Homo sapiens: one gene and its partner. The protein of the gene in region 2 purifies or fractionates together with the protein of the main gene of each other region. This does not show direct contact. Each region holds a gene or a part of one and is shown on either strand. Other genes may lie near its edges.

Region 1 (3,654 bases), on a different chromosome or scaffold from region 2:
GGTAGAGAACTTCATCGCTGCTTGATGAGTGTTGAAGTTCAGGCTCCCCAGAAGGTATCTACTAACATCGTGGTGGGGGATAGTTCTTACTACCCAGCAGGAATGAAAGTCCTTGCTCTCTACTCAGACTTCTCTAACACCTCCCCTGTGGGCAGATTGGGGCAAGTAATTACAGCCTGGCAGGGGTAGAAATCTAGGCCCCTATTGGCATTTGCTGGCATGGGTGGAGCTGCAGTTTTTTCTGTCGTGTTTGGCTGAAGTAGAGCAGTTACTGTCTACTAGCTGTTTCCTGTCTTACTAGTTGCTGCTTTCCTGGTACGTTGGCTAGAGAGAGCAGATTTTGGGGGAGGTTTTTGTCTGTGCCCATTGGTGTTTCCAGGCTGCTGGCTCCTTCAACTTTAGATCTGGGATATATGACCAGAAAAAAACCAGGAACTTTTCTGCGTTGTTCCATGGGTCCCAAGGTCCCCCCTAGCTGATCTGCTTTCATCTCTTCACCTTTCAGAGTGATCTAGCTCCAGCTCACCTTCAGCCTCATTTCTTCTGTCCCATTTGCATGCTTATATCCCCAGAAATGCACTGCATCTATGGCTCTAGCTATTTCTTATGTTCAAGCAATATAGAAAGAACTACTTGCCATTTCCTAACCCCGTGATATGCTTTCACATCTTTAAGACTTTGCTTATGTTGTATATTCTTGCTTTAATATACCTAACCTTCTTCCTCTTTTTTTTTTTTTTTTGAAATGGAGTCTTGCTCTGACGCCCAGGCTGGAGTGCAGTGGCGCCATCTCGGCTCACTGCAGCCTCCGCCTCCCAAGTTCGAGTGATTCTCTGCCTCAACCTCCCAAGTAGCTGGTATTACAGGCGCGCACCACCACACCCATTTAATTTTTGCATTTTTAGTAGAAACGCGGTTTTGCCACGTTGGCCAGGCTGGTCTCGAATTCCTGGCCTCAGGTGATCCATCCGCCTCGGCCTCCCAAAATGCTGGCATTATAGGCATGAGCCACTGCACCTGGCCTACTAACCTCCTTTCTCTATCTTTGAATTCTTCCAGCATTTTCAAAGGCCTTACTCAAAGATCACCTCTCCCATCAAATCTTTTCCAGATCTTCATTCATGATGGTTTACTTCCTTTTCTTTGTTTTTGTGATACTTTATACTTGACATTGATATACCATATATCTCATTTTGTTATGGCTGTTTGTGTCTTTTTTACTCCATGGGATTATGAATCCTTTGACTATAGGGGCATATCTTATTTTTCTTTGTATCTACAACATTTAGAGTACTTGACATATAGTAATTGTTTAATAAACTGTTTGCTGAATGGACCCCATCATGAAATTTACTCTCCTGAAATAGAGTGCAGGTAATTTGAAAGGCTGTCTCTAGAACTACATTGTTTAATCGAAATGTAATTTTAAATTTACCGGTGGCCACATAAAAAAATAAAAAGAAAAACAAGTGCAACGAGTTTTAATAATTTTTATTTAACCCAATATATTAAAAAATGATCATTTCAACCTGTAGTATATATAAAAAATTGAGATACTTTACATTATTTTGTTGTATTAAGTCTTCACAATCTGGTGTATATTTTGTACTTTATAGCTGACCTCACTTTGTACCACCTGCTTTCCAAGTGCTCTCCAGCTGTGTGGAGCTAGTGACTATGTATTGGGCAGCACAGCTCTAAAATGTAATGGAGTTCTTAATATGTAATTAGTCATTTTTGTCCACTTTGGCAGGTTTTGCACAGGCCTTTCTTGATTTTAACTGTGTAACTGTAATTAAGTCTGCAAAACTCATTAGAGAATAGTGCTCCCTTTTAAAAACACCTCATTTCTAATTTAAGGGTGACTGGCTGGCAGCCTAGCTGCATTTTGAGTATGGGCCAGCTAAGATGCCGCCTTAGAGTTCCTCTCATGACTTCAGGCTATTTATTTACCTGTCCTCAACTGCTCATTCACCCCATACTATTCTTAGACTACCTGTTTTTGGCATGATTGTTACTTCTTTCACAGTCAATGTTGTTTAGTTGATATGTGATATGTTGATGTGCCTCCAGAGTATCATATGCTTGTGACACTGTTGATTGGTAGACAGGTAGATCTCGAAGGCACTTCAAGAGGTTACTGTGTCGACTTCATTTACATTCATCTGCAGGAGGGGGAGTGTGGGGGGAAGCTGTAACTACTATATATATATATATATATATTTTTTTTTTTTTTTCAGAGACAGGTTCTCACTCTGTCACCCAGGCTGGTGTGCAATGGTGCAATCATAATTCACTATAACCACAAACTCCTGGGCTCAAATGATCCTTCCATCTCAGCCTCCCTAGTAGCTAGGACTATAGGCATGACCACTGTGCCCAACTCGTTTTCAGTTATTTTGCAGAGATGGGGTCTTGCTATGTTTCCCAGGCCTAGATCGCTTTAATAAGGTTTGAGATCTGGCTAGTGGTTTATTAATGAATTACAAGGCATTAAGTGCATGCTAAATATATTATGTGTATATGTGTTTGTATAATAATATGTTAAGGTGAATTTAAAGGATAGGCTAGAAATGTATTGGTAACAAATCAAATACCTTAACACAAGGTTTATACCTCACTTGTGGTACATAAACTCTGCAAGTCCATAGAGGATTCTGCTTCATGGTCACCCTAGGGTCCAAACTGATGGAGGGTTTCTCCTCATATAACTATACTCTCTAGAACGTGAAGTCTCCTCGTTTGTCATAGCAGGAAAAGACAGCATGGAAAATCATGCACTGGCTCTCAGGTGCTTCAACATATAGTGCATTGGCCAGAACTAGGCACATGGCTCCAGCTAACTCCAGGGATGGGCTGGGAAATGTAGTTGTCTGGTAAGGTAAGAACTAGATGTTAGTGGATATCAATAATGTCTGCCACAGTCCTGATTCTGCCACTTGCTAGCCCTGTGATCTTGGAAAGCCACTCTCTGAGCCCCAGTTTACTCATCTACAAGTTGTAAACAATAATAATCTCACCTAAATGAATTGTGATTATCAGACGAGATACTGTTACATGGGAGCGCTTTGGAAATGTAAAGTGTGATGGAAATTTTGGCTATTCTTTAACTGTTTTTTGAATTTAAAACGCTGCTTGTTTTTCCACAGGTCTATTGAATGATGGAACTGTGGGTATTTTTAGGGGCAACCAGATGCGCTTAAAGCGAGCCTGCATTCGCAAAGCAAAGATCTCTGCTGTTGCTTTCCGGAAAGCTTTCTGCCACCACAAGTTAGTGGAACTTGATGCCACAGGTGTGAATGCTGATATCACGATTACAGACATTATCAGTGGGCTTGGCAGTAACAAATGGATCCAGCAGAATCTCCAGTGCCTGGTGCTGAATTCATTAACTCTCTCCCTCGAGGATCCTTACGAGCGCTGCTTCAGCCGGCTTTCTGGCCTTCGAGCTTTAAGCATCACGAATGTTCTCTTTTACAATGAAGACCTGGCTGAAGTTGCCTCATTGCCAAGATTAGAGAGCTTGGATATTTCTAACACCTCAATCACAGACATCACTGCTCTACTGGCCTGCAAAGACCGACTCAAGTCTCTAACCATGCACCACTTGAAATGTTTAAAAATGACAACTACCCAGATACTGGATGTAGTTCG
Region 2 (3,654 bases):
CATCCAGCTTGTCCTCTCATCTCTAACAGGGTGCAGTGGCCAGGGCATGAGTCCCCGGCTCCCTGCTGAGGAGTGCCAGATGTCTTCTCCTAGGCTGGTTCCAGTGCCTCCTCCTGCAGGGCCCTGTATTCTTTCTCTGCCCTCTGGGAAAGTACTTCTCTTTGCTTACTACCCCCTCCTACTCTTACTCTTGGGCGGGCCTGTGGGCTCCTCTGCTAGAGGGTTGTTTAACCAGAGATAAGTGTGAGGGCCGGGTAAGAGAAGGGCCTGCCGCCTCTGCAGCAGTGGCCCAAGTTAGGAGATGCATTCCTAAACTCCTATCTCCCAGAAAACACCAGTAGAGGACTGCTAGTGGGCTGCTCCCATGGGTGGTTGGGCTTCCCCAGTCTCCATGAACTGTGTAAACTCCTCCTCACCCTGAACAAGCGCTCTTTGCCTTTCTACTTGGTTCTTCATGGTAATAGTCCTCCCCATCCCTGCCAGGACTGGCTGGATTTGAGCAGAACTGGTGGGCTCAGCCCCACACCAACGGGTGGGCTTCTGGTAGGTGACTGCATGACCCTGTATCTCTGTCTTGCCTTCTTCACAGTGGTGTGCTGAGCTCCATTGGGAAGATTTTCAAAGAGGAAGGGCTGCTGGGATTCTTCGTGTACGTGAGTTTATACACCCCATAACTGGCCACGGGCATGGCTCTGCTAACAGGTGTGTCCTCAACCTCTCAGACCGCAGCTGCTGGCCTGGGACTTCACTACATGGCCCTGCCCTAGCCTGAGTGCTGCAGCCAGCTCTCCAGAGCTCCATAGCGTGTCCAAGCTGCTTAGCCCTTTTCAGGCCATGGCTCATGTAAAAGTGGAACTGTGTGTCTAGTACATGGGGGAGATGAACTGACCAGCCCCACTGGGCCTCATCCAGTTGTGGTGGGTGTGGGGCTGGTCTTCATGAGCTAAGTCACTGCATAGTCCTTGGCCTCACTGCTAAAACATGACTGAAAATCTGACTTGGACTGAGGGTGGAGCTCTGGAAGCTCACAGGCTGACCACAGCCAGTGGATTCTGTTTGACATTGCTTTTCTGACAAATTAGTTGTTGCCGTTAACATTTAAGATATGTTGCACAAAAATCCACATGTCTGGCATCTCTTGAAAAGCCAGAAAATCTTGTCCTGCTGAGCGGTTCTTTCTGTAGAGCATCCATCGGCCAGGACCCAGGACCTGCTTCTTTGGCAGGGCACATGGTCTCCGAGGGCCGCAGACACCCTGTACTTCGTCACGTCACATCCAGTGTACTTCACCTCTAAAGAAAGCACATACTGAAAAGACTAAGTTCAGAAAGAATAAGGTGCAGACAGAAGCCAGGCTTGATGAGTTGTATTTTGATTTGCCGTTTTAAGGTCTAGGCAGTGACATACATGCTGATAAGTATGTCACAAACGTGGTAGACACATGGTATACAACAGTATCCGCTGTACTAGATACAGGGCTCCATATTATTCATAAGAAGTCTTTATATCATGGTTTTCCGGTTTGTGAGATGTTTTTTATTTATGGCCCCTTGTTTAACCAATTAGTGACTACTTGTAGGTGCATGTGTGTGTATATGATATAGAAATATATATACGGTTCTCAGCAGGAGGTGATTTTGCTCCCCGGGGAACATCGGCAGTGTCCGGAGACATCTTGTGGTTGTCACAACTGGCATCTAGTGGGTAGAGGCCAGAGACGCTGCTAAACATCCTACAGTACACAGGACAGCCCCGCAACAAAGACTTATTCAGTCAGGTGTCGTTGCTTGCATCTGTGATCCCAGTTAGTTGGGATTAGTCTCAGTGGTTTCTGCAGCTGTCAGGAGACCAAGGCGGGAGGATTACTTGAGGCCAGGAGTTCAAGACCAGCCTGAGCAACATAGTGAGACTTCTGTCTCTACAAAAATGTTTTTAAAAATTAGTTGGCCGTGGCGGCATGCACCTGTAGTCCTAGCTACCCGGGAGGCTGAGGTGGGAGGATGGCTTGAGCCCAGGAGTTGGAGACTGCAGTGAGCTATGATTGCACCACTGCACTCCAGCCTGGGTGATAGAGTGAGACCCTGTCTCTTGGGGAAAAAAAAAATTATTCAGCCCAAAATGTCAATAGTGCCAAGGTTGAGAAACTCTGATTTATATTCACACACACACATATATGTATGTGTAAGTATTTATACATACATATATTTGCACATGTACCTGGTAACAAACCAACATTTGTGACATACCTATCAGCATGTATGTCACCGCCTAGACCTTAAAACAGCAAGTCAAAAAACAACTCATCAAGCCTGGCTTCTGGGTTCTGTCTGTGCTTTATTCTTTCTGAACATAGTCTTTTCAGTATGTGCTTTCTTTAGAGGTGAAGTAAGTTGGATGTGAGGTGACAAAGTGCAGGGCATCTGTGGCCCTCAGGGACCATGTGCCCTGCCAAAGGGGCAGCCCCGGGACCCCAGCCAATGGCTGCTCTACAGAAACAGCCACCCATCTTGAAACACTGCACATGACCACCTCTGGCATTTTTCACACTGCGTAGTTCTCTTCTGGTGTTTGAATAGGATTCCCGCACAACAGATGCCTACTCTTTGGGTTCTTTCTCCCCATGTGATTTTGGAACAGGTGATACTCATACATGTTACAGTGCATAGAAAGCACCAAAGGGTATAGCACAAAGTCAATCTGAGCACAGGCAGGGACGACAAGATTAGAAATTGCATTCACAGAGGTTCCTTTTATTAATACTCTTCATAGATGTATTACATATATTCTTTTGAGTTTTTCAAATATAAGATTTTTTTTTTTAATTCAAAAACAAAAATTCTGCTTCTCCTCCCAGGAGACAGCCATCCTTCTCCTGGCGAGCCTCCCAGGGCACTCTGTACCTAAACAAGCAAACACATTGTAAAAAACACAAGAGGCACATGGGACTCACTGACCTCAAACTGGCCTTTTGCCCTCAGCACTGCATCTTGGGGAACCTTCCTTAGCAGTTTATAGAGCTGTTTATCCTAAAGGCCATCACTTAAAAAGTTAGCCCTCCTTGTAAATGCTTGCATAGAATCTTTTTGATAGAATATTTTCAGGGGCAAAGAGAACAGATGCATTGAGCAGTGTGTCTTCTGAGAGTTGGTTAGGTAAAGAGGCCAGGAGAAAATTACCAACACGTCGGCACTCTTATTATCTGCATTTGGAAATTCCAAATTTGGCAGTATTCACATCTTGATCCCTGGCTTCTGTGGTTTGAAAACTGCTTGAGACTATTAGCTAATTTATGGCATCCAAAGCGGCATAGAACACCTCCCCATGGGAAAAGGAGCACTATCTTCCCAGTGTGCATAGCTGCTGGACCCTGCAGGCCTCCTTTCTAAGGCTGTGCCATTGGATATGCTAAGATTTTGAGCTCGGAACATCCCTGCCTGCTTCCTGGGTGTGGAGCCCCCAGGAACTGCTCCTCTCCCTCTCCTGCTCATCTCTGCTTACCTTGTTTTTTAGTGGATTAATCCCTCACCTCCTGGGCGATGTGGTTTTCTTGTGGGGCTGTAACCTGCTGGCCCACTTCATCAATGCCTACCTGGTGGATGACAGCGTGAGTGACACCCCAGGGGGGCTGGGAAACGACCAGAATCCAGGTTCCCA

The links. Proteins that work in one complex are often made in the same cells at the same time.
Region 1: the proteins of MTCH1 (region 2) and ZYG11B purify together in Homo sapiens (affinity purification with mass spectrometry; one large-scale study listed by BioGRID and IntAct). This does not show direct contact.

The regions. Positions count from the first base shown.
Region 1 is NC_000001.11:52,767,871-52,771,524, forward strand, and holds part of ZYG11B (protein zyg-11 homolog B), read left to right. Parts: intron 1-3,149; coding exon 3,150-3,654. UniProt on the Homo sapiens protein: Serves as substrate adapter subunit in the E3 ubiquitin ligase complex ZYG11B-CUL2-Elongin BC. Acts to target substrates bearing N-terminal degrons for proteasomal degradation with the first four residues of substrates being the key recognition elements.
Region 2 is NC_000006.12:36,972,653-36,976,306, reverse strand, and holds part of MTCH1 (mitochondrial carrier homolog 1), read left to right. Parts: intron 1-589; coding exon 590-649; intron 650-3,510; coding exon 3,511-3,654.